7 linked regions of the Homo sapiens genome follow. The protein of the gene in region 6 purifies or fractionates together with the protein of the main gene of each other region. This does not show direct contact. Each region holds a gene or a part of one and is shown on either strand. Other genes may lie near its edges. The genes, in order: NT5DC1, MTAP, PGM1, CORO7, IDH3A, PEX7 and FMNL1.

Evidence for each region.
Region 1: the proteins of PEX7 (region 6) and NT5DC1 purify together in Homo sapiens (co-immunoprecipitation; one large-scale study listed by IntAct). This does not show direct contact.
Region 2: the proteins of PEX7 (region 6) and MTAP purify together in Homo sapiens (co-immunoprecipitation; one large-scale study listed by IntAct). This does not show direct contact.
Region 3: the proteins of PEX7 (region 6) and PGM1 purify together in Homo sapiens (co-immunoprecipitation; one large-scale study listed by IntAct). This does not show direct contact.
Region 4: the proteins of PEX7 (region 6) and CORO7 purify together in Homo sapiens (co-immunoprecipitation; one large-scale study listed by IntAct). This does not show direct contact.
Region 5: the proteins of PEX7 (region 6) and IDH3A purify together in Homo sapiens (co-immunoprecipitation; one large-scale study listed by IntAct). This does not show direct contact.
Region 7: the proteins of PEX7 (region 6) and FMNL1 purify together in Homo sapiens (co-immunoprecipitation; one large-scale study listed by IntAct). This does not show direct contact.

Annotation. Positions count from the first base shown.
Region 1 is NC_000006.12:116,240,353-116,243,852, reverse strand, and holds part of NT5DC1 (5'-nucleotidase domain-containing protein 1), read right to left. Parts: intron 1-3,500.
Region 2 is NC_000009.12:21,801,315-21,805,435, forward strand, and holds the start of MTAP (S-methyl-5'-thioadenosine phosphorylase), read left to right. Parts: upstream 1-1,321; 5' UTR 1,322-1,434; coding exon 1,435-1,467; exon of another isoform or gene 1,468-1,552; coding exon of another isoform or gene 1,553-1,636; intron 1,637-4,121. UniProt on the Homo sapiens protein: Catalyzes the reversible phosphorylation of S-methyl-5'-thioadenosine (MTA) to adenine and 5-methylthioribose-1-phosphate. Involved in the breakdown of MTA, a major by-product of polyamine biosynthesis.
Region 3 is NC_000001.11:63,596,411-63,599,910, forward strand, and holds part of PGM1 (phosphoglucomutase-1), read left to right. Parts: intron 1-3,500. UniProt on the Homo sapiens protein: Catalyzes the reversible isomerization of alpha-D-glucose 1-phosphate to alpha-D-glucose 6-phosphate. The mechanism proceeds via the intermediate compound alpha-D-glucose 1,6-bisphosphate.
Region 4 is NC_000016.10:4,364,597-4,368,096, forward strand, and holds part of CORO7 (coronin-7), read right to left. Parts: intron 950-3,500; coding exon 895-949; intron 465-894; coding exon 407-464; intron 325-406; coding exon 179-324; intron 94-178; coding exon 1-93. Other genes in the region: CORO7-PAM16 protein, read right to left, coding at 1-93, 179-324, 407-464, 895-949. UniProt on the Homo sapiens protein: F-actin regulator involved in anterograde Golgi to endosome transport: upon ubiquitination via 'Lys-33'-linked ubiquitin chains by the BCR(KLHL20) E3 ubiquitin ligase complex, interacts with EPS15 and localizes to the trans-Golgi network, where it promotes actin polymerization, thereby facilitating post-Golgi trafficking.
Region 5 is NC_000015.10:78,147,987-78,152,161, reverse strand, and holds the start of IDH3A (isocitrate dehydrogenase [NAD] subunit alpha, mitochondrial precursor), read right to left. Parts: upstream 2,801-4,175; 5' UTR 2,759-2,800; coding exon 2,732-2,758; exon of another isoform or gene 2,220-2,731; intron 1-2,219. UniProt on the Homo sapiens protein: Catalytic subunit of the enzyme which catalyzes the decarboxylation of isocitrate (ICT) into alpha-ketoglutarate.
Region 6 is NC_000006.12:136,843,092-136,846,591, forward strand, and holds part of PEX7 (peroxisomal biogenesis factor 7), read left to right. Parts: intron 1-2,523; coding exon 2,524-2,601; intron 2,602-2,981; coding exon 2,982-3,090; intron 3,091-3,500. UniProt on the Homo sapiens protein: Receptor required for the peroxisomal import of proteins containing a C-terminal PTS2-type peroxisomal targeting signal. Specifically binds to cargo proteins containing a PTS2 peroxisomal targeting signal in the cytosol.
Region 7 is NC_000017.11:45,235,385-45,238,884, reverse strand, and holds part of FMNL1 (formin-like protein 1), read right to left. Parts: intron 2,750-3,500; coding exon 2,641-2,749; intron 1,605-2,640; coding exon 1,528-1,604; intron 1,340-1,527; coding exon 1,246-1,339; intron 868-1,245; exon of another isoform or gene 322-867; coding exon 247-321; exon of another isoform or gene 1-246. UniProt on the Homo sapiens protein: May play a role in the control of cell motility and survival of macrophages. Plays a role in the regulation of cell morphology and cytoskeletal organization. Required in the cortical actin filament dynamics and cell shape.

The sequences.
Region 1 (3,500 bases), about 21 Mb from region 6:
CAAATCAAAACTTGATATTCACTAATAAAACTTATTTTTTAGACGTAAAATTTTAATATTTCTTTTGCTCCTTCAGTAGGTCTGTGTGTAGCTATTATTATAAGGTTAAAAATGTGTATAAACCAACCACCATTGTAATACATATGGCTAATAAAGACAAACTTTTACAACAGCTATAAAAAAGGCTTCTAGGCATTTAAATGTGAATGAGATAACCATGTCTAACAGAATATCCACAAGTATAGAAACATTACTTGAATATAAAAAGGTTTTAAGAGGCAAAAGGGATGTACCAGGTTATTTTTCACTTCCTATCTCATTTAAAACAATTTAATTTTATTCTTTCTCCCATATTACAGAAAAGGTCTATCAAAGGTCACTTAGGATGAAGAGTTAGATATCTTTCTCTATGCAATTTATAATAATGTTTAAGTCAAATCACATTTAGAGATATCTCAAATCATCCCGAGCTCTATGTGAGTTTAATTTTAATACTCTGCACAGAAGTTAATACAAAAATATGAAAGCTTATCTGAATAAAAATTTAAAAAAAACTCCCAGGCCCTCCTCAGAGGATCATGTAAAACTGGTGAATGAGACCTAATAATCTTCTTCATAGTCACAGGATGAGGGTTACTAAGAATAATCTTCAAATGCTTAGCTAAATAAGAATTTTAATACATACAACATGGCAACTTTCTTCAATTTAAGGAAGAAGAATCGGAAGTTCAAAAAAATTAACTAGACTTCTAACTTCAACTGGAAAATCTGGATAAAATATAAACACGAGACTGAAGTGTCACCAGAGAGCTAAAGAGGCAACCAAGACTTGAGGCACAATTCTTGGGAAGGAGGAACCAGCGGAGAGAGGAGCTAACACTAAGCCTCAGCTTTTCTCCTCTGGTGCTGGAATTCTGGCTGGTGGTAAGGGCTACTACAAGCAGCAGAAAAACCAGTAGAGATTTTGACAGTCTTGCAGGGCTGCAGAGACAAAAATTGAGGGGCTAGGACCACTGTAAAGGAAGGGTCAGAGAACTGGACTCTGCTGGTTGTCTCCTCAAACCCTTTGCCAAATGCTGAAGGAAATTTGCAAACTAAGAATCCAAGCGGAAAGCATATGCCTCTATAAAGGAGAGTGGATGTTTTCTTTTTTAGGCATTTTCTTGGTATTGTGAAAATGGAAAGATTAAATTCTGACCTGAGAGAGGAGAGGGGACTTTGTGAGTATCTTAGACTGGCAGTTATATAGTTCTGAGAACTAGGAGTTTATAATTATGAAGTGATCTCTCTCATGCTAATCATTTTTCCCCTTAATATCTACTTTGTTTCATATTAATGCAGCCACTCTCTCTCTCTCTTTTTTTTTTTTTGGTTACTGTTAGCATGGTATTATTTCGTCCGTCTTTTGATATTTAAACTTTCAAACTTTCTGAATCCTTATGTCTCAGATATATCTCTTATAAACAACTTATAATTGGGTATTGTTATTTTTATTTTTTTATTTTTATTTTGAGACAAGAGTCTTGCTCTGTTGCCCAGGCTGGAGTGCAGTGGCGCAATCTCCGCCTCCCGGGTTCACGCCATTCTCCTACCTCAGCCTCCCACAGGCGCCCGCCACCATACCCGGCTAATTTTTTGTATTTTTTAGTAGAGATGGGGTTTCACCGTGTTAGCCAAGATGGTCTCGATCTCCTGACCTCGTGATCCGCCCGCCTCCGCCTCCCAAAGTGCAAGGATTACAAGGCGTTGAGCTACCGTGCCCTGCCGGGTATTGTTATTTTTTTAAAATTGGCTATTAATTGGAGTATTTGGTCACATACATTTAATGTAATTACTTCAGGTTTAAATTAAACATTTTACTAAATGCTTTCCATTTGTCTTGCTGATTCTTTGTTTTTTTTTTTTTTTGTTTTGTTTTTTTTTTTTTTTTGAGACGGAGTCTTGCTCTGTCACCCAGGCTGGAGTGCAGTGGCGCGATCTCGGCTCACTGCAAGCTCCGCCCCCCGGGTTCATGCCATTCTCCTGCCTCGGCCTCCTGAGTAGCTGGGACTACAGGCGCCCGCCACCACGCCTGGCTAATTTTTTGTATTTTTGGTAGAGACGGGGTTTCACCGTGTTAGCCAGGATGGTCTTGATCTCCTGACCTGGTGATCCTCCCGCCTCGGCCTCCCAAAGTGCTGGGATTACAGGCGTGAGCCACCGCACCCGGCCGTCTTGCTGATTCTTAATATTCTCTCATCTCCTTTGTTTTCTTTTAGATTCTTAAATTATTTTACATATTAGCTTGGTATATGTATATCATCACAATTCTCTTGAGAGTTATTTTTGAGATTACAACATGCATTTCTGACATCAATACTGAACATAGTCTTATCCTTAATTGTTTAATTCTAGCATGTTAGAACATGTTAATTTTTGCTGCCCCACTCTGGCATATATATGCCATTACTGTCAGGCATTTTAATTCTCTATGTAAATCCCATGGGACTTTAATTTTTATTGTTTCAAACAGTAAGCATTCATTTTTTATTCATATACTTACACCATATACTTATATACATTCTTCTTGCATCTCCAGTCTTCTGACATGAATTATTTTTAATTGTACCTGGAGAATAATAATCTTTATTTCCTTTAGTGCAGGTTTCTGGACATACATTTTCTCTATTATTCCCTGTCTAAAAATATTTTACTTTTTTTTTTTTTTTTTTGAGACAGTCTTGCTCTGTTACCCAGGCTGGAGTGCAGTGGTGTGATCTCAGCTCACTGCAACCTCTGCCTCCCAGGTTCAAGCAATTCTCCTGCCTCAACCTCCAGAGTAGCTGGGATTACAGGCACCTGCTACCACACCCGGCTAATTTTTGTACTTTTAGTAGAGACGGGGTTTCACCATGTTGGCCAGACTGGTCTCAAACTCCTGACTTCAGGTGATCCGCCCACCTCGGCCTCCCAAAGTGCTGGGATTACAGGCGTGAGCCACCACATCCGGCCAATATTTTACTTTTATTCTTTACAATGTTTAACTGGGTATATAATTCCATCAAGATTCACATCATTTTCTTTCAGCAATTTAAAGCTATCATTCTATTGTCTTTGACTCTCCTCTGTTTCTGATAAGTCAGATGTCAATCTGTTATTTAATCTATATTTATGCTCTTGATTGCTTTTAATATTTAATTATCTTTGGCATTTAGCAGTTAACTCTGAATTTATTTTTTCTTCATTTTGTTTCATTTCTTTGGGCTTCTTAAACCTTTGGCTTATTTTTTTCCCCATCATTTTCTCTCATCTCACTTATTCTCTCATCTCCTGGGACTCCAATCACAGATGCCCCTCAGTAACTGCAGGGGACCCCTGTGGATACCAAAGCCTGTGCATGCTCAAGTCAGAAAATGGCATAATATTTGCATTAAACCTACATACATCTTCCTGTATACTTTAATTCATCACTAGATTACTTAATATCCAATACAATGTAAATGCTATGTAAATAGTTATTA
Region 2 (4,121 bases), on a different chromosome or scaffold from region 6:
AAGGATTCCCTGTCTCCTATTCCTCAAAGGAGCACCCGGATTCTACTTTCATTCTTCTTTTGCCATTGCATTTTATAACTTAAAAGAAATAGATGATTGTAACAGAAGAAAGAAAACTTTACATTGTGAGAAAATTTAGACCTAAAGCTTATAGTAATGTGAGGACGAAAGTCTATACTGTTTAAGTAAATAGGTTCTATGAGCAGCATCCAGGCTAACATCACACAGTGGTATTTTGAATTAAATTGTACTTGTGTTTTGTTTCCGTGTTTTGCTGCTGTAAGGAAAGAGGAAAGCATCCCCTTTCTCGGCCCTCCTCCCACGTCCAGGCTAATTTGCAGCATTTCTACATCTCAGAGTCCACCCTTAAGATCCTTGCCACCCATTATTTTGTTTCAGAACGCTTAATCCATCAAGGAAGGTTAAATTGGATTACCCCAGTAGGGAAGGGACGGGGGCTGTAAGCATGAGGGATTATCCCTGTAAAGGGCTCGTGGTGTGTGTGTGTGTGCGTCCTGCTAGTGTTGAATGACGGAGACCTGAGTTTGGATTCTGAATCCAGGTGTATTCGATGCCGCTCCGGCGTAGAACGGGTTAAAGATGCCCCCAGCCAGGTAGAGCCAGACTGGGAGTTGTGCAAGGTCTCAACCCCCTAAAAGCGGCCCCTCAAATTGAAGATGAGTAAATCATAGTTCGTAAATCAGAAAGATTATCCAGTACTACGTTACTCTGTTTATTTCCCTTTCGTCATCCCTGAGTCTTGGGTCAAGTCCATCCCAGCTCTGTCCTCCAGGAATCAAGGGAAATACGCAAACCCGCGGTGGGTTCGCAGCCGCAGGAAGGACAAATCTTGCCCCCGCCGCGGCGGCCGCCCCGCGTTAGCTGCCTAAGAGAATCTCCGTGGCCGGCCAGTACCCGCCTTGGTGAGGATTCTCCCTCCCGCGAGAACTTCTGGAATGCCGCCGGGCCAGATTTTGCAGCTGAGGCCTCCGACGCCACTAATATTGGGCCAAGCAGGGAGTGCTGCTCTTCCTTATAAGGTTTTAGCGAAAGTTAAGTAAGCCAATTAAAGTGCAAAACACACAGTCTGGAACAATACAGCGCTCTATAAATGGTCTCCATTATTATCATTATCCGTTAGTTATAACTGGGGATAAAAAAAAAAAAAAAACGACAAAAACCTGGAGAACCGGAAAGGTCTGCAAAAGGGGCGGAACGCGGGAACTTCGATTTGGGGAAGGGGTGGCGGGGGAGATCCCACACAAGCAGCCAATCCAGCTGTCCCGGGGAGGAAGAGGAGGAGTCAAGGCCCGCCCCTGGTCTCCGCACTGCTCACTCCCGCGCAGTGAGGTTGGCACAGCCACCGCTCTGTGGCTCGCTTGGTTCCCTTAGTCCCGAGCGCTCGCCCACTGCAGATTCCTTTCCCGTGCAGACATGGCCTCTGGCACCACCACCACCGCCGTGAAGGTGAGATGAGCCCTCCCAGCCGCAGCGGTTCGCCCTGCCGGATGCCTTCTCGCCCCCGCGCCGGGGGACCGCGCCTCCGGGGGCCATGCGCCCGGCCCGTGCGTCCCTTGCCGCCGCGGGGAGGGACTGGGGCGCGGCACTCGGGACTCACTTGCCGCGCGAGGAGAGGGTACGCTTGCAAATGATCCCCCTGCCGCACCGCCAACACACACACACACACACACACACACACACACACACACACACACACACACACCACCTTTTGGCTTATCTGCACCCGCACCCTGTAGGGCGTAGGCACCCCTTTAGAGAGAGAGGTCGTGGATGGGAGAGGCTGCACCCATGCCACCACCATTCCTGAGAACCACTCTTCTTCCAAGAAAGACACCCGGCTGGAGTCAGGAGGTGTCCGGGCGCCTGCAGCTTCTGTGACCGTCTCCTGGTGCCTTGCGGGACTCCAGCTTCCGCTCTCTGACTCTGCTTGTTGCCTGCGGCCCACGTGGGAGAACTGCTTACTTGCTCTTTTGTATGCTTCCGGCTTCTTTTTCCTCCAAACGTAGGCCTTCTCCGCGCTGAAGTTTTCCCCAGCAGCGTAATACTGTAAGAATTCTGAGACTTTCTTCGAAAAGGAGTACAGGCGTCCGTTTTTAGGGCTGCACTGTTTGGAGGCCTCTGGCTTGAAACTGCTTTGTTTTGCAGCCTTGCAAGTTAGAGTTCAATTTCCTTGTGCCCTAGGCCCTGAGAGGCCTTGATACAAGGGGTCATTGTGCGGTGGGAAGCTTTGTGCTGAGGAGGGCACGAGTTCTGAGAGTAGCAGCTGGCTTCCCTGGGGTTTTAAACACTTCTCTCCTGGTTAGTATTCCGAGAGAGAATTACAGCACGTAAAGAAAAATTGATGATAAAACTTAAGACCTCTTCTAGGCAGTTTATTACTGGCTAAGAATGCGTTCTTGTTTGATTTTTAGAAATTTTTGGCCTATGGGATAGGAAGGTCTGCGATCTTCTCCAAAGCATCTCGATTCCCTACACTCGACTGCAGTTTTCCCGGGAGAAGGCGAATTTCTGCGGTCAGTGTGTAATCAGCCAGATTAGTTTATTACGCCCTTGCAGGTTTAAATGAGCCACTTAGAATGAGAGGAATGGTGAAGGGTGTTGCATCCAGACTTATATATGAAACTTATTTTGTCATTTTGAAAAGAATCTTGCATCCAGCAAATATTTATAGAAGGCCTCTCCCCTGCCTTCATTGTTTGGCGGAAACAAGGCAGAAATGGTTTTCATGAAACTCGTGTGAAGTATGTGACTTCTCTTAGGTGCTCATCTATAAACTGAGAATTTTACTGCAGAATTTGCTAGGAGGGCTAGAATTATATTGTCTATGTTGCACATGGTAGAAGCTTATTAAGTGGTAGTGCTTATAAGTGGGGGAACTGAGATTAATTTTGAATGATCTTTTCCCCAAAAATTATTAAGTTATTGTGTTAGGTATCATTAGGCCACAACTTTTCACCTTATCCTTGCAGGAATACACTTCAAGCGCCATTAAAAATGGAGAAATGGTGTTTAAAACAGTCTTACTTTAATCTGGTTAGCATTCTCCCTGCCACAGGGTTTCCCTTCAAATTAATGCAGTGCATTTAAGTGCAGAATGGGCAATGGGATTCTCAGAGACCTGATGTAAATATTGAATAGTGTGTATTTTTGGTCTTGGCAAGCTTCTGGATATAAAATTAAGAGGTACATATGGTGCTAGGACTGCCTGCTGATTTCTCTTTTAATTTAGAACAGATGACAGCTTTGCCGTAGAGATTCCATGATGCCAGCACCGTATTCCCCAGACTTCTAAGGCAACATTCTGTATAGAAGATGTGAGGTGCCAGTGTCCAGAGCAAAATAGGTTAATAAAAACCACATCCTATTCCCAAATTATAGAATGATGGGGCTGGAGTGTTCCTTCAAGACCATCCATATAGCCACACAAACCCGTTTTGCGGGTGTAAAGTTGAGGCCCAGAAAGGTCAGCTAAGTATCCAGAATTACACAGCTGGACCTAGATAATGACAGAATTGGGCCTAGAGCCTGGCATTCCACCAACTAGATGTGAGGCATTTCTGAAATCTGAAGTGTGGTCTCTGCCCTGTTTTCTTGTGACCTAATGCACAATTAAAATGAGCACTTGATAGAATGTCCATCTTGAAGAGGGAGGCAGAGGGTATGCAGAAAGCAGGCTGCCTCCAGTGCCCACTGCACACCACCCAGGTATAGGTATAGGAGGCACATGTGTGTCTGAACCCCATTGGTGTCACTGGCAGGTCCTTTGAGAGGTTGCTGGATTTAAATACAGTAACATGTAACACACTCAGCCCAGTTCCAGGTACTCCTTTAATGTCAGCCCAAGTACCTCTCTTCTTAAAATAGAGATATTAACGGGGTGGATCTTAAATTCATTCTCAATTTTAGAGGTGCAGTTAACTCATGCAAGTGAAAGATTCCACTGAGTTTTGGATTGGCAGTATATTTGGCATATCTTTCAAATCTAGCCATCTACTGGTGGAATCCTATTCAAAAATATTTATTGAATACCTGCTAGACAATGGGGATGCAGCTTTGAGTAAGCGAGGCCTTTATTTATTTTCTTCAAGTTTATATTCTAG
Region 3 (3,500 bases), on a different chromosome or scaffold from region 6:
CACACCTGGCTAATTTTTATATTTTTAGTAGAGATGAGGTTTCACCATCTTGGCCAGGCTGGTCTCGAACTTCTGATCTCAGGTGATCCACCCTCCTCGGCCTCCCAAGGTGCTGGGATTACAGGCGTGAGCCACTGCGCCTGGCCTATTCCCTAGGTTTCTACGCTCAGGTTGTTCTCTGATTTTGTTCACTCTCTCTACTCACTCGGGATTTAAATATGCTACTCTTTCTCTTGTGATATGATTCAGTCCAGATGGCATCTTCAGAAACCTTTCTTGACACCCCATCCCTACCACTCTTCTCCACCTATTAAGTGCTCCTTTCCCATAGATAATTCTAGAATATATATATTAAATTCTAGTGAAATTTTCCGTTTACATGTCAACGGCCTCCAACTAGAGAGTAAGCTTCTTTAAGTCAGACCTGTGTTTTACCTGTATCTGCAATGCCTAGGACTATGTAGCATTCAATGAATTCTTGTTTATTTGCTCTGAACTGTGAGTCACTTTTGTATTCTAGCACTTGATTTAAAGCCAGCATGTAGCTGGTGACCAATAAATTTATTCACATCAAACATTTATTATGTGCTTGCTTTGCCTCAGACATTGTACTTGAGATACAAAATATTTTTGCCCTTGGGAAAGACATAGTCTGGGAGGGGTGGTATACAGGAGTAAGCAGACAGCACAATGTGTCAGGTGTTGTGATGGAGGGATGTGCAGGTGTCTTTAACCTGAGGGGCTGTACTTGGGAGGGGAAGATGAAGGGAGGGAGGCTCCATAGAGGGGTGGTAGCCGAATTGAGTCTTAAAGAATGACTTGGAGTTCCCAGAGTGGGTTTGTCTGGTAGGAGGAATTCTTAGCAGAATGAATACAAATTGAGGGAGTTTAGATTAGATACAAATACAAATTTCTAGTCCTTTTTTGTTTCATCCACAAAGGTTGGGAATAATACATACCTGAAGAGCCTGTTGTGAGGATTAGATGAAACAACATATTTACAAGTACCTCACTTGGAAACTGTTCGAATGATAGGTGTGTTATCAATGTTTTGTTGGTATTAGGACACAATCCAACGTGATGCAGATATGAGCCACCCAGATGGTCTCCCACCTTCCTCTAATCCTCAACAGCCTCAACCAATATAGAGGGGTTCCGTGTTAGTCAGAGCCCAATTGGGTACAAATGACAAAAACCTTACTTGGATTACTCCAAGTGAAAAAGGAATTTTATTGGCCCATGTTACTGAAAAGTCCAAGAGAATCCCAACGAATTCTTTAGTTGAAACTATTCCTGGTCTCTAAAAATCACTTCTGGGTCTAATGATCTGCAAATGACCAGCATCAGAAATTGAGGAGAGTTTAAGCTCACAAATGAATGTGTGCATGTTTTGAAGGATGATTTATCACCACCCTAAGCAAAATAAAATAAATACCTTTGTGGGAACTTATGAGCAAGGAGGGTATTTGTTGTTGTTGTTGTTGTCAAGTTACAGGGATTCTTTTGTCACGGCTCCTTTGCTACTCATTTGTGCAAACTGTGGAGCCCCTTCTCAGAATATATATTTTTAAAAATTTGAGACATGGTCTTACTCTGTTGCCCAGACTGCAGCACAGTAGCGCGATCGTGGCTTACTGCAGCCTCAGTCTCCCCAGGTTCAGTTGATTCTCCCACCTCAGCCTCCTAAGTAGCTGGGGTCTACAGGTGCATGCCACCATGCCTGGCTAATTGTTTTATATTTTTTGTAGAGATGGGGTTTCACCAAGTTGCCCAGGCTGATCTCGAACTCATGGGCTCAAGCGATCTGCCTGCCTCGGCCTTGCCTCCCAAAGTGCTGGGATTACAAGTGTGAGCCATCGTGCCGGGCAGAGTATTTTTATTTTTAAGTGAATAAAACAAAATACAAACCATTACAAAGGAAGCAAAATTATATTGAAGTATAATCAAAATATTAAAAAACCAGATTTGTGATATATCAAGATAATGCTTCTTTACTGACATAGGAAGATTTGTGGAGGATTTAATACTGCCTTACTTCAAAGTAGTGGTGAGTATAAATGATGTTTTGAGACGTCTGCAATCTCAGTATTTTGAGATAACTATAATAGGATATGAAAATATAATTTTTATTGATGATAAATTCCTAGGTAGTAGTAGTAATAGTAGCAGTAGTAGTAATAATACTGTGGTTTGCTTCCTACATTTATAATAAAAGGAGGTGCTAAATTTCAGTTAGATGTTAGTGAAAATAAAGATTGTTTTGTTTATTTTGTCATTCATATTCATGGATCCCATTGAATTCTACCCAAGGACCTCTTGAGGTAGGGGAAGGGGATGTAAGCATCCCAAGTTAAGAACCCCACACTAAACAATGATCCTTTTTTAGCATCAGGTGATGCCTGCACCAAAATGGACCTCAAACACATGACCCAGAGGTTAAGGGTCTCATGTTCTCAGAGCAAACTAGTGGGACTTTGCAAACTTCGCCTTATAGTGGAGGAACTCCACTGTCTCCCGCTTGAAGTGAACCACCCTTTTCTGAACTTTCATGAGATCCATCTGCAAACACTGCTGAAGGAACATGTTTCTGGCTATAGCAGTTCACATTTCTTGAAAAGGAAATAAAAGAACACTGAGCAGGAAGGGGAAGGTTTTGAGACTCTTGGGTAGTTGGAGTTAGGTGGAGACACCTTGCTACTTTAACTTTAAACCTTATATCCCTGGGGCAGGGATGACTTGGCAGAGAAACACCTTCAAGTCACTTTTTTTTTTGAGACACTGTCTTGCTCTGTTGCCCTAGGCTGGAGTGCAGTTGCAGGATCTTGGCTCACTGTAACCTCCGCCTCCTGGGTTCAAGTGATTCTTCTGCCTCAGCCTCCTGAGTAGGTGGGACTACAGGCGTGCACCACCATACCCAGCTAATTTTTGTATTTTTAGTAGAAACGAGGTTTCACCATGTTGGCCAGGATGGTCTGGATCTCTTGACCTCATCATCCGCCCGCCTCGGCCTCACAAAGTGCTGGGATTACAGGCGTGAGCCACCACACCCGGCCCAAGTCACTTTTTAACATGCTGTAACCCCCACTTTAAAAAAAAAAAAAACCACTTTTTAATTATGGTGGGGCCGGGCATGGTGGCTTACCGCACTTGAGTGGGTCACTTGAGCCCAGGAGTTCCAAACCAGCTTGGACAACATGGTGAAACCCCTTGTCTACAAAAAATAAAAAAACTTAATCTGGTGTGGTTTCGGGCGCCTGTGGTCTCGGCTACTTGAGACACTGAGGTAGGAGGATCACATTCACCCTGTGAGGTCAAGGCTTCAGTGAGCTGTGATTGCACCACTGCACTCCAGCCTTGGCGATGGCAAGACCCTGTCTCAAAAATAAATAAATAAATAAATATAAAATGAATTATGGTGGGCTTTGAACAATTGTTCTCCCCTTGTTTACACTTTCTGATTTTGAATCAGCACTGAATGCCAGTATGGATAACCTATTGTC
Region 4 (3,500 bases), on a different chromosome or scaffold from region 6:
CTGCTGGTTGTCCCCAGCCCACCAGCTATGGGGGTCGGTGGCAGGCACACAGCCGGCAGTGTCCGGGAACAGGTCCTCGTGGAACTCCACAGCCTGGCCGCAGACAAGCAGGCAGCTAGTGAGGCCCAGGCCCCCCGACTCCCCAGCCCCCGCAGTCCCTCGCCCAAGTCCCCCTCACCTTGCGGGGCACATGGTAGCCGATGGGCACGATGGCTGTGTCGCTCAGCTGTAGGACGCGGAGTACCTCGCAGCTCATGACGGCCAGCGCCTGCCGGGGCACAAGGGCAGCCCCACGCAGCACGCTCTCCAGGACACACTGGGTCACTGTTGAGGACACCATAGGGGAACAGGCAGGATGGGCAGGGGAGGGGAGGGTAGGGGATGGGGGCGAGGAAGCAAGGCTTACCTGGGCTCAGCGCCGGCTGCTGCGGGACCACCTCGTAACAGTACAGCTGCCTCTCGCCCTGAAATGAGTCTGAACTGAGCCCCGTTTGCTGACTGAACCCCTGGGGAGGGCCCAGGACTGGCATCAGCTCCCCCACAGGTCCCCAAGGACCTGAGCCACAGAACCACAGTGGCTGGAGATGGGGCTCCCCAACATGCTGGGCGCTGAGCTGAGCCCTAGGCTGACTACCTCACTTGCTCAGCCTCGTTGCACATGGGGTGAGCACCGGGGGTGTACGTCAGTATTTATGGAGTGCTGACTGTGTGCTGACACTGCTCTATTCTCGGCCTTGTTCTCAGGAAGGCCAGTGTTCTAGGAGAGCTACAGTCACCTTGGCTGCACAGGGGAAGACACAGAGGCCCTGTTCGAGTTCCTCCTCTCTCTTGGGGAAGGCCAGGGGCTGGACTCCAGGCTGTGGATGTGGGTGGGAGCCCCAGCTTCTCACTCACCTTTCCTGCCAGGACCAGGAGCCCAGAGTCAGGGTCCAGCAGAGGCACGAGACACCTGGGGAAGAGAGGGCAAGATGGCGGGTCAGGGCAGTGGGAGGGCTGCCAGACTCGTAACCCCATGTAGGAGCCCAGGACAGGCACCACAGTGACTGGGAGCCGCTTGGCCATCCAGCCATGTTCAGCCTGGTCCCCAGGAACCCCCTCCTCTTCCTGAGCTTCCCACATGCCCAACACACGCCCACACCCCAGCTGCTCCTCCCCAGGGCCTCCACCTGCACACCTGCGTCACTCCAGGACTGGAGTGGGCACAGGGGAACTCGGGCCCGATCTCAGCCACAGCTCTTCCTCCAAGAAGACCCCACATGCATTCTGTGCCCCTCCCACCTTCGACAGCCTAGACATCAGGCCAGCATTGCCAGGGAAGGTGGAGAGGTGAGGCCGGAGGCGAGGAGCCTCCCGTCCCCACTCGGCACTGCCTGTGGACAGGCAGCATCCGGGAGCAGTGCAGGCAGCCCTGCCGTTCCGAATCTGCACTAAGGTTTGGGGCCCTCTACTCAGTTACCCCACGTTTCCTGTGCCTCAGTGATATCTTGGAAGCTCAGAGACCCCCCCATGCTGAGTTAAAGTTCCTGTGTCCAAATCTGAGCCACGTGCCCGGGAGAAGGGGCTCCTCCGGCCGCTGGGCTTCCCTGCACACCCCAGGCCTGCTGCCCCGGCCGAGCCTGCCAGCAGCATGCTCCCAGGCCTTCTCTGGTCTCGAGGCAGGAGCAGGGCGGGGTGGCAGCTGGGAATAGAGTGGGCGGGCCGGAAGCCCCCAGAGCCCCTGCCACTCTATGTCCAGCTCAGCCTTGGCCAACTGCCTGTCACTGGCCGGGCTTTATGCCTCCCTCCCGGGGCCCCTCAGAGACCCCTGCACAGCCCCTCAGCCCTGTGAGAGCTGCCTTCCCACTCCAGGGCCTTTTGAGGGGAATGGGGACCTGGAAGGACTCTGACAGATGCCCAGATGCCCAGTTGCCTTCCTGTGTTTCTTGCTCCTGATCTTTGCTTTTTTTTTTTTTTTTTTTTTTAAGAGACACGGTCTCCCTCTGTCACCCAGGCTGGAGTGCAGTGGCACAATCATTGCTCACTGCAGCCTCAACCTCCTGGGCTCAAGCAATCTTCCCACTCAGCCTCCAGAGTAGCTGGGACTACAGGTGTGCACCACCATGGCTGGCTATTTTTACTTCTATTTTTGTAGAAACAAGGTCTCACTATGCTTCCGAGGCCGGTCTCAAACTCCTGGCCTCAAGTGATACTCCCACCTTAGCCTCCCAAAGTGCTAGGATTATAGGCATGAGCCACTGCACTTGGTCTTGGTTTCTTGTTTCTGGGACCTGCAGGCCTGGACCCTCCCAACCCAGACACTGACACCCTTAAACAGGACCCCGTCCCCACTGTGTTGCCAGGGTCAGAGGTCACCCAGCTGTGGCAGCTGCCTCTATCCCTCACTGCGGTGACAAAGGGCCCAGCCGCCCTCCACTGTCCACCCATCCCCTCCTGCCAGCCGACCACTAAGCAGTCCTGCCCACCTCCCCTCCCCACACTTCCAGGAGCCACAGAGTGGCTGGGAAGCTGGGTGGGGCCCTGGGTGTCTCCATGACTTCCTGGAGTGCCTTGGGCTGGTCACCTGTGAGTAACACAGGCCCCTACTTACTGAGGGCCCAGCAGGGTGAGCCGGGCTCAGCAATGCCCTTTGCATCCCGGCCTGACCACTGCTTGTAGAGGTGGAGGCGGAGGCGGAGGGTAGGGGACCAAGGTGGTGCGTGACCTGGAGTGCCCTCCACACTGACACTGGCTCCACTGGGGCTGGAAGCAAGTCCCTTCAGCAGCTTTGACAGGGCTTTCACTCATTCATTCGTTCACAATCATTCACTCCTTTGATGAGCTGGTCTGTGCCTGGTCCTCGGCTCGACCTGCATGTAGGTATGCCCAGAGATGAGTGCAACAGACCCTGCCTCTGTCCTCAAGGTGCTCACAGCCTAGCACAAGAGGCAGACAGACACAATCCCATAGACAAACATGTGAAGGGAAGGTTCACCGAGGACACACAGTGACAGAGCAGGGGGACTGGGCCTCAGCAGTGGGGGAAGGGGTGATCCCTGCGATCCCAAGGTCATGCAGAAATCAAACACCTCACAGGAAGAGAGTTTCAGAGAGAACACAACCTGTGCAAAGGTCCTGTGGCAGGTGGGTTCATGGCCTGTTTGAGGAACAAGATGGACAATGTGCCTGACAGCCTGGACAGTGTGGGTGAGGGCTGAGGCTCAGGATGGGCAGGTGGAGGCTAGACGGGAAGGGGCCTGGTGCATGTGGGGAGGGGGAGTTCTGCCTCCAGTGGACGAGCAATGAAAAGGTGACGGTGCGTTTCAAGCAAAAGAGGCTAGGCCAGGCCTAGTGACTCATGTCTGTGATCCCAGCCAGCACTTTGGGAGGCTGAGGTGGGAGAATCACTTGAGCCCAGTAGGTCAACACTGTGACCAGCCTGGGCAACATCATGAGACCATGGCTCTTCAAAAAATTAAAAATTAAAAAATTAGCGAGGTATGCTGGCTCACGCCTGTAATCCC
Region 5 (4,175 bases), on a different chromosome or scaffold from region 6:
GCTTGAACCCAGGAGGTGGAGGTTGCAGTGAGCCAAGATCTCACCATTCCACTCCAGCCTGGGCAACAGGAGCAAAACTCTGTCTCAAAAAAAAAAAAAAAAAAAAAAAAAATTGACATGAGTCCTTTCTCCTCTCCCAGCCCAAAAAAGAGGGAAAAGACATTCACACAAAACTAGCTTATGTCTCTGTGACAGAAGACCTGACCAATCAGCCTAGACAACAGAGTGAGACCCTACCTCTACAAAAAAAATTTTAAATGTTAGCCAGGTATGGTGGCACACACCAGTAGTCCCAGCTTCATGGAAGGCTGAGATGGCAGGACTTCTACTTTATAGAATACTCATATGCATATATATATATATATCTCACATCATTTTATTTATATAAAACCTGTAGAGATAGGCATTATTGGCACTTTTCAGATGAGGAAACTGAGGCCAGGTTCATGAAGCCTGGACCAAAACCCTGAACTTTGGACTTCAGGTCGTGGGCCATCTTAATCCACAACTCATTTCCTTTTTAACTTAAAAACATGTAAATAGTGTTGTACATGGGTTCTGAGATGGGTTTTAAAAAAAAAATCTTTTTTTTTTTTGAGACAGAGTCTTGCTGTTACCCAGGTAGGAGCATGATCTCCTCTCACCGCAGCCTCCACCTCCTGGGTTCAAGTGACTCTCCTGCCTCAGCCTCCCGAGTAGCTGGGATTACAGGCGTGCGCCACCACGCCCAGCAAATTTTTGTATTTTTAGTAGAGATGGGGTTTCGCCATGTTGGCCAGGCTGGTCTTGAACTCCCGACCTCAAGTGATCCGCCCACTTTGGCCTCCCAAAGTGCTAGAATTACAGGCATGAGCCACCATGCCTGGCCACAACCTGAAATGGAAACTCAACAGAGGAACTGTCCTGATTGAAACCGGCATCCAGCTCAGCACCTCCACCATCCTGGGGTCAGCCTCTGAGCCACCTTCTGCTCCAATCCCTAAAGTGAGAAGCTGGCCCAGAAGTCAAATGACTCTGCCAAAGGTCACACAGGGAGTGCATGTCAGAGAACCTCATCTTCTGACTCCACAACCCAACACTTTCTGAATACCTACTATGAGGGTTTTTTCATGCAGATCACACTAAAGGCAAAACAGATTTACCAGCACAATCATTATCAAGTGTTGCTTTAGTGCCTCACTGTGAAGGCAAATGTACCTACCAAAGATGAATTGGGTGTTAAATGTAAGTTCAGAGATTAAAGGACTGAGTTCAGTTTTCACAGTGACACAGAAGTTGCTTTACTTTTAGGAGCAAATGTGACATAAGAGTTATCATCACAAGCAAATCTGGGTCTGAAGAGGGTGACAAAGTAGAATCTAGTTATTGAACAAAAAAACCAGTTAATGATGCCCATGAAAACCACTGTCTGTTGGAGACAGATAAACATATTGATAAGAAAGCTTCAGATTTTTGTTTTCCTTCTGTACATACCAAGTGCTTTCACATACATTATTTTATTTAATACTCAAACAATTCTGTGATGTAAGTATAGATATTCACAGATGGGCATATTAAGGCTTAGAGATGTTTAGTAATTTGCTTAGGGTCACACAGCCAATCAGTGGCATTGCTAGGATTTAAATCTGAGACTCCTAAATTCCAGTACAGAGATCTTTTCCTTAAATAACAGTGCATCTCTGGACCTCTCTTTAAACCGAAAAAATGGGAGAAAAGTAGTATCAAACTTACAGAAAAACGTTAAATTGTTTATAGATTTCTAGGGGACCACCCTTTCATAGCAACAGGAGACTTGAGGCCTGATGGCCTGTACCATCATTTGCTATGTGACCTTGGGAAATGGGAACCAAGACACCTAGGTTCCTCTCCCTGCTCTGACACCGACCTCCTGTGTGACCTTGAGCAAATTCTTCTTCAGGCACAGGTTAGTTCCACTGAGAAGCTACGGAACTGCATAGATGATCTGAAACCCTTTCCAGCTCTGGCATCTGAGCTGTCAAGGAGAGCTAAAGCGCTCCAGATTGCAGGATTCCCACCAATGAAAGGTAAAAGGAAGGCTCTGCTGGTCTCTCTCTCCGAAGGTTCAGACGGTAATTCCGAGGTGTAAGATGCCCTATCCTATGAAGGGGAAATAGCTACAAGAGCACTAGAGGTCTGACTGGGAAGAGCGCCAAAGGGAAAACAATCTGATAGGGAAAAGGGCCCCCGGATTCTCTCACCTGGGAAAACCTCCCAAGCTCAACGCCAGTGCCCGTGGCACCTGCGGTTCCCCGGCCAAGGGCCGCGCAGACAGCGGATGAGAGGTGTGGGCAGTGCTGAGGGGATCAGTCCCGCAGCAGGGCCGCAGCCGGGGAAGCGGCCCGGATGGCGGAGCCGGGACAGAGGCTCCCGTGACCTTCCCGGGCTCGGCGCGAAGCCTGGGCTCTGGCCTGGGCGGATGCGGGTGACGGCAGCCGGGTCTCGGCAGGAGCAGGGCCGGCGCCCCCCCGCCTTGACCTTGACGCCGTCCCCGCCTCTGCGCTGCTGACCCGGCCCGGGGCGGCCCATACACTGCGAGCCGGCCACGGAGCGCGGGGCACGGGCGACCAGGACCGGCTCCCAAGCTGTCCCCGCGGGCAGCCACCGCCTCCCTGTCTGGCCCACGCGCCCGCCCACACCCGGCACGCGACCGGCTCTCCTGCCAGCCCTCGCGGCCTGCCTGCCTGCCACACGCCGGCCTGCCAGCGCTCACCTTAGAGATCCACGCGGGCCCAGCCATCGCTTCCCCTCCTGGCTCCGCAGCAACAGCCGCAGCGGCAGTGCGCAAGCGCCCACCCCACGCTCGGAGCCCGCCCCTGCACGGCCACGCCCCCTGAACGCCCCGCCCCCTAGACCGCCTCAGGATTGCTTCGCGCTCGCTCGCTGCCCCGCCCCTGGACATTCCGCTGGCGAATCGCCGGGCTCGTCTCTCTGTGACTGGCCTGGCTGAGCGCCAGGCGAACCCGGAAACTGAGGGGCCGGCATCTCCGGGAAAGCTTCTTCCTCCCCTCCCTGGTTCATTGACTCGCTGTTAAGGTAAGACGTTTGTTCCACACCTACTAGGTGCTGATTAATGTTCTAGGATCTTGGGGATATAGCGCTCCTCATAGAATTTACAATCCCGTGGAGAAAGACACATAATTTTCTTATTCCACAAATTTTGATTTTTTTTTTTTTTTTGAGACCGGGTCTCACTCTGTCGCCCAGGCTGGAGTGCAGTAGCGCGAACAGGTTCACTACAAAGCCTCGACCTCCTGGGATCAAGTAATTACTAAGCCCAGCCCAACTTTGTTTTTTCTTTTCTTTTTCTTTTTTTTTTTTTTTTTTTTTCTCCGTAGAGATGGGGCCTCGCTATGTTGCTCAGGCTGGTCTGGAACTCCAGAGTTCAAGCGATCTGCTTGCCCCAGGCTCACAAAGTGAGCCACTGCGACTGGCCGAATTTTATTTTTTACCAGCTTTATTGAGGTATAATGTATATATAGTAACATTTACTCACTGTAAGTGTACAGTTTGATGATTTTTAGTAAATGTAAACAGTTGCACAACCATCACCACAATCCAGTTTTTGAGCATATGAAAATGTTCCTTGTGTCCGTTTATAGTCAATCCCGCTCCTGTCCTCAATCCCAGGCAACTACTAATCTGTCTATTTAGCTCAACAAATATTTCTGAGGGTCAACTAGACACCAGGCACTGTTTTAAGTGCTGGGGCTTAGTGTCCAGTAGGAAAGACAGGCTTCAATCAAGTGTCACACACATGTCATTAAAACTGTTGCGCCAAGAAGCAAAAGAGCAAGGAGCTATGGCAAGGCAAAATCAGGCAACCTGATTCAAACCTAACCTGGAGGTCAGGGAATGCTTCTCTGAAGAAATAACATCCATACTCACCTTTCCCCTTGTCCTCTCCCTGTCCATCACAAACTCCTGAGTTCCTGCTGATGGCCAGGCCTCTAGCTGGGTGCCAGGGGAGGTCAGGTGTTTAAACCAGGTCTCTGCTACCCTACCCTGGGAAGAGTTCTATCCAGAGAGGAGCTGCCTACCCACCCAGAGAGGTGATGAGTGCAGTAGAGAAGTGATCCCAAGAGCTTTTATGACCTAAATAATAAACTGCAGCTAAGTCTGTGGCCTTGTCAGGAAGGAGGGCTTTTATCAACCCC
Region 6 (3,500 bases):
TCAAGTAGCATGCTGTACAGATAGCCTCACATTGCGATTAAAAGTGGACTCTGCAATTAGGCTGCCCACGTTCAGATTTCATATCTGCACCTTACTAGCTTTGGGACTCTGGACAAGTTACTTAACCTCTCTGGGCCTTGATATAGTATCTACTTCATATAAATGAAGATTAAATGAAATAAAATACATAAAGTGCTTATGAACAGGATCTGACACTCAGAGTGTTCAATAAAGGTTTGCTATTTTTATTTTTGACTGTTTACATCAGCCTAGAGCAGGGGTTGGCAAACTACGTCATGTGGACCAGGACCAAATCTGGCCTGCAGTTAGATTTACAAATAAAGTTTTTTTGGAATCAAGCCATGCGCATTCATTCGGTATTGACTATGGCTGCTTGGTGTGTGCTATAAGAGCTGGGTTTAGTAGTTGTGACAGTGACCAAATAGCCTGTAAAATCTAAAGTATTTACCATATGGCCCTTTATAGAAGAAATGTACCTTTTTTGAAGAAACTTACCATTTACTATATGGTCCTTTGTAGGCGAAATTTAGAGGATAAAATCAAACTCTTTAGCTCTCAAGATCTTCAGTGATTGCTTCCAAACCAGCCTTTTTTCTATCCATAACTAACAGATGGCCACAGCAGCTCTTTGGTTTTCACTGGCCCTTCTATTCCTTTTATAGCTGCTGTCTGTTGCTGGATTGTGCTTCCTTTAGTGTTCCAACTACTCTTCTGTCTTTTGCGTGAATATGGGCAGAGGCAGGGCCAGGACTAGGGTAGAATGTGTGAGGCACTCACTCTAGGTACACAATTTAAGGGGGCCCCAAAAAACTTGATAATCAAGATAATTTGTTAATGTTTTTAAAAATAAAAATTAATGCAAAAAACCCATTATGAACAAAATATCGATATTTTACTTTTTTTGAAGCTTAATATTAATTTTATTAAACTTTTTTCCAGGTTTATTATGATTGGCAAATAAAAATTTGTAGGCTGGGCACGGTGGCTCATGCCTGTAAACCTAGCACTTTGGGAGGCTGAGGCGGTAGGACTGCTTGAGCCTAGGAGTTTGAGACCAGCCTGGGGAACATGGTGAGACACTGTCTCTACAGAAAATAAGAAAAAAATTAGCTGGGTGTGGTGGCACGCAAGCGTGACTCCAGCTACTTAGGAGGCTGAGGTGTGGGAGGACCGCTTGAGCCCAGGAGGTCATCGCTGCAGTGAGCTGAGATTGTGCCCACTGCACTCCAGCCTGGGCGACTGCGCAAGACCCTGTTTTGGAAAAAAAAAAAGAAAAATCTAAGTTGTACAGCTTAGGGTTTTGATCTAAATATATCTTGAGTAATGATTCCTACAGTCAAGCTAATTAACATATCCATCACTTGAATGGTTACCATTTTCTTGTGTGTGAGATAAGAACATTTCAGATCTACTCTCAGCAAATTTCAAGTATTCAGTAATACATTATTATTTATAATAGTTACCATGGTGTACATTGAATCTCTAGAAATTATTCATCTTATAACTAAAAGTTTGTATCCTTTGACCAACATATCCCCATTTCCCCCACCCCCAGCCCCTGGCAAACACTACTCTACTGTATGTTTCTCTAAGTTTGACTTTTTTAGATTCCACCTATAAGTGACGGGATCAGTATTACTGATGTTTTTTTTCCTCAGCCTCCAACATGGCTCAATATAGTACTGGGCAGCAGAGAGAAAGTAACCCACATGTAAGCGGCTTAAGCCCAGATACTCATACTTCCTACGTATATGTGGGAGAGAGTAGTAAGATTCAAAGTAACCTGCTGGCTGATCACCAATGTGATATACCAATGGCATATACTCAGGTCCTTGTCAGGACTAATTTCATAAAGTATAATTATGCACATATTTTGTTGAACTTAGTTTACAGCAGTGATCTGTGTATAATCTGTTGTATAAAATGAAAGAATGAAAACATTTCCAAAAGTTTTCAAGTAGTTCATTTGAAATGGTTCACTGAGAGCAGTGAAGCATATACTTTAGAATAGCAGCATTGGATAACTAAAACTGTTTACCAAGAGATCTGGAAGGATCACCTGGTTCCTGCAAGCTTTTTCTAAGAAAGGCCAGATAGGGATATTAATTGAATTTTAATGCTTTCCAATAAACATTGACCCAGCAAGCTTTTTTAGATGACTAACTTTCTAATCTGCTTTGACATTTCTTCGTGGGGCTGCAAACAGTGATTTGTTGGTAGGTTTTAAAATATGTATAATTTGTTTTAGTGAAGAAGGTTTGGAAGTATACTGTAGAATTCTGTGAAAGCAGAATGGAGTCTTATCTGTAAGGAATAAGTCTGGAGGAATGGACAAGATCAACTTTTCATTTCTCAGACACCTTGTTGAGATGGATAGGAATTATTTGATGTTTTGACATAGTAAATTAGTTGTTCTGCCTCTCATTGTTATGTAACAAGAGATAAAATGCAATGTTGAACTTGATGGTCTTTTGCTTTCTAAACACTTTTCAATGTTTTTAGGTGTATAGTGTTGATTGGAGCCAAACCAGAGGTGAACAGCTTGTGGTGTCTGGCTCATGGGATCAAACTGTCAAATTGGTATGTTAGCATTATTGTATTCAAAAACGAATATTCCCTTCTCTAGAGCTTCCACTAAATTTTCTTCTCTTTTTCCAACATACTTCTGTAGCTCTATGATTCGACAGCTGAGCTTTCTTTTAAAAAAAAAATTAAAACACTTATTAGAACTTAAAATTTTCTAATCTTTTGGCTGTGAACTAATAGTTAGCTCAGCATTAGTTTGGCCCTTAAATACAGTCTTGCTTTATATCAAAACAGATCTTTAAAAATCCTTGAGATCTGTATATATATTGTATGCATATATATAAATGTATATAGTTTATTGGTGTATGTAGTATATGTAAAAGCATAAATTTGAATTTATCCCTCAAGTAATTGATCTATTCATTTATTTGTAGTGGGATCCAACTGTTGGAAAGTCTCTGTGCACCTTTAGAGGCCATGAAAGTATTATTTATAGCACAATCTGGTCTCCCCACATCCCTGGTTGTTTTGCTTCAGCCTCAGGTAAATTATTCTGTATTTACCAAAAGCCTTACTTGTAGTGAATGGTGGCCTTGTTTTTACCATTAGGTGGCGCTGTGTACCTTAGCTTCAGAGAGAAAACAGGAGAATATTACTATTCTTTTGTGTTCTTAAGACTTTACTTCTTTTTTTATTTTTATTTTTTTATTTTTATTATTATACTTTAAGTTCTAGGGTACATGTGCACAACGTGCGGGTTTGTTACATGTGTGTGCATGTGTGCCATGTTGGTGTGCTGCACCCATTAACTCATCATTTACATTGGATATATCTCCTAATGCTATCTCTCCCCCCTTCCCCCACCCCATGACAGGCCCCGGTGTGTGATGTTCCCCATCCTGTGTCCAAGTGTTCTCATTGTTCACTTCCCACCTATGAGTGAGAACATGCGG
Region 7 (3,500 bases), on a different chromosome or scaffold from region 6:
TACCCCAAGCCTCCCTCCTTCTCCACAGTTCTCACTCCACTAACTCCCAGCCTTGGCCTGCCCAACATTTCACCTCCATGTTCCCTCAATCCAGCCCCCTGCCAACATCCACCCTTCCCCTACTGACCACTCAGTCCTTACGCTTTGCGGGGGCAGAGCCCATTGCCCAGCACCCAGGACCCTAGCTGCTCCCTGCACCCAAGAGGGCCTGGCCCAGGCCTCAGGCTGCTGGGCTCCTGAGCTCACCATGAAGTCGATGTTGCTGTCCTCATTCCGGAAATATTCCATCAGCTTTTCAAAGCGGTGCTGCTCCCCACACACCTGGGTAAGGGGAATGGCTCTCACTGAGGCCCAGTGACACACGTCCTAAGCTACCTTCTGGCTGCCACACCTGTGCTTCAACAGGCTCCTCTCCAGTTAATTCTAAGTTGAGCCACGTCACTCTTCTGCTCAAAACCTCCACTCCCTCTCAATCTCCCACTCTCCCTCACTTTTTCCACTCTGGCCACACTGGCATCCTGGCACATTCCCACCCCAGGGCCTTTGCACTTACTGTTCCAACTCCCTGGAGTGCCCTCACTCCCACACCAAGTCCCTTGCTTCCTTCACAGCTTTGCTGAAATCTCACTTGCTCAGTGAGGCCTTCCCTGACCACCCTGCAACCAATTCCCCCTCCCTCTGCAACATTGCTGGCTTTTTTCTCACAGCATTTATCATTTCCTAACATACTATGTAATTTGCTTGTTTATTATATCGTTTCTGTCTTTCCCTATATGGTTTCCTTTGTTCACTGATGTGCCCAAGTGCCCTGTTCCTGACACATAGTAGGCACTCAATAAATATTCATTAAAGGAATGAATGAATGAAGATATCTTGTCTTATGCATCTTATGCAGCCCCACACATCTACTTCTTGCAAGCCTGTTAGCCAGAGTCCGCAACTCCTGGAGGTATGAACCAAGGCTAGTTTGGATCTGGCAAGGCTGAGTCAGAGGTTCAGCAGGTCCCTGTAGTTGTCCCTACCCCCACCCAGGTGGTGCCCTTACCTGACCCTGTACCTTCCATTCAGAACTTCCCCATCCCAGATTGCTGAGCCAGTGATGTGGCTCAACTTCAACTTTTGGGCGTTCCCCAAATGCCCACCCAATGTCCCCAGCTGCCTCCAGCAAAGGCCACAACTGCCAACAACAAGACTCCAAGCAACACCATAGGGGGAAATGCATGTTTGGGTGAGGGACTCCGGTACCTCCTTGAAGTTGTCAAAGGCTGCAAGGATGATGTCATGTCCTCCCCGCACCAAGCACACGGCCGCCAGCAGCTCCAGCACCAGAGCCTTGGTTCTGGAGAGAGAAGGGGCAGGTTGTCCCTTGAGAACAGGCAGGACCCGCGGCAAGGGTGGGCACAGGCCTGGCTAGGAGGAGCATAGTGGGTGCAGAATGAGCCTCTGAGACCTGGAGGACAGAGTAAGCAAGGGGCTAAGTAGGAGAAGACTCTAGATACGGAGAAAGGTTTGGGGCCTGGACCTCACCTGGGGTTCTTGTTGTTGAGGCTCAGAGCAATCTCATTGACACAGGCTGGGTGGTTCATGACAAGGCTGAAGCCAGACTGGGGAGAGAGGAGAGGTCAGTGTCTCCAGGAAGGGCCCCCCAGGACTTCAGGCACCCACGCCACGTGGATCTTTAACTGCCCTCGAGTTTAGGAAGTTCTTTGTATCCAACCGCAACTTCTGTGGCCACCAAAACCTGGCCTTGTTTCTATTTTTTTTTTCAAGATGGAGTTTCCCTCTGTCACCCAGGCTGGAGCGCAGTGGCGCCATCTCAGCTCACCGCAGTCTCTGCCTCCCGGGTTCAAGTGATTCTCCTGACTCAGCTTCCCATGTAGCTGGGATTACAGGCACCTGCCACCACACTCAACTGATTTTTTTTGTATTTTTTTCAGTAGAGACGGGGTTTCGCCATATTGGCCAGGCTGGTCTCAAACTCCTGACCTCAGGTGATCTGCCCACCTTGGCCTCCCAAAGTGCTGGGATTACAGATATGAGCCACCACGCCTGGCCTCTCTTTATTTATTTTTTATTTTTTTATTTTCATAGAGATGGGGTTTCAGTATGTTGCCCAGGCTGATCTCAAATTCTGGGTTCAAGCAATCCTCCCGCTTCGGCCTCCCAAAGTGCTGGGATTATAGGCATGAGCCACTGCACCTGGCCTCTTTTTAAAAACCTTTGTGTTTCCAAAAGCCAGCATCAGGCACCTTGGAAACCGTGAAGCTGGCTTAAAGGCGGGCTAAGTAAAGGAGGACCCAGCTTCACCCATCAGCCCTCCAAATGAATCGACCCGAGGCTGTTCTCCCCTGGCCCTCCGGCCAGCCCTTCTTGGTAGGTGAGCCCAGTCCCTATGTGAGGCTCCTTCATGCCCAGCCATGGGCAGGGGTACTCAGAGAACCTGACAGAGGCAGCAAAAACATGGGCTTCCCCTCAAGACTCATCAGCCTTAAAAGCCTGAGCCAACAGCCCAGATGCGCAAGTTCCCCAGCACAGCACAGGGTAAAGGGACAGTGGATCCCAGAGCCTCGGCAGCTTGTGTAGCCCCCAGTGAGGACAGGCTGGGCTCCCTAGTCGCCAGTCCCATGCCCCTCGGCTGACCTGGTAGTTCATGATGGCGCGTAGGCACATAATACAGACGTGGACGTCGTCCTTCTGGCTGACGATGCGGGAATTCCGCAGGGCCTTCCTGCTGTGGGCTGGGGTCAGCCTGGGCGGGGTGTGGAGGAGGCAGCAGGAGTCAGAGTGAGCCCCAGCTTCCTGTTTCCCCACCACTCAGCCTCTGGGGTAAGAGGAGGCACATCTGGAACCTGACGGCACCACATCCCATCTACCCAACCAAAGAGGCTGGCTGAGGGCAGGCAGGCTTCCTCAGTCCTTAGACCTGGGGTCTGGCATGCTTGGAGGAGGGGGGACACAGAAGCAAAGACACTTCCCAGGGACTTGGTAGGGTGAGGGTCTATAGAAGGAAGAGACATGGGAAGGATCACCACAAGGTGGCGCTCATGGCCACTTGGGCTCATCTTCCAATGTAAGACGCAGATCTGAATTCACACTGCCAGGGTTCAGGCGCATCCCAGCTCACCATTTACTGGATAAGTCACTTAATCTCCCTATCCCTCACTTTCCTCGCTTCTAGAATAGGAATGCTAATAATAGTAGCTTCCTGTCAGGGTTGTTGGGACTATGGAATAGGCTTAGAACAGTGCCTGGCACATAGTAAGTGCTATATGACTGTACTCCCTTATTCTTCGCCAACAAATGTGTGATGTTTTCATTGTTGCAGAACTGCCGACCGGGACTTCCACATGTCAGTCTCTCTGATGATTCTATCACATTCCCAGTAATACCAGGAGGCCCCGCCTTCACCCCCTCCTGCCACATCACCCTTTCTTGTCATTGTGCTAATATGTCAGAGTTTTTGTTCATGCTGTTCCTTCTGCCTGGAATGCTCTTCCCTG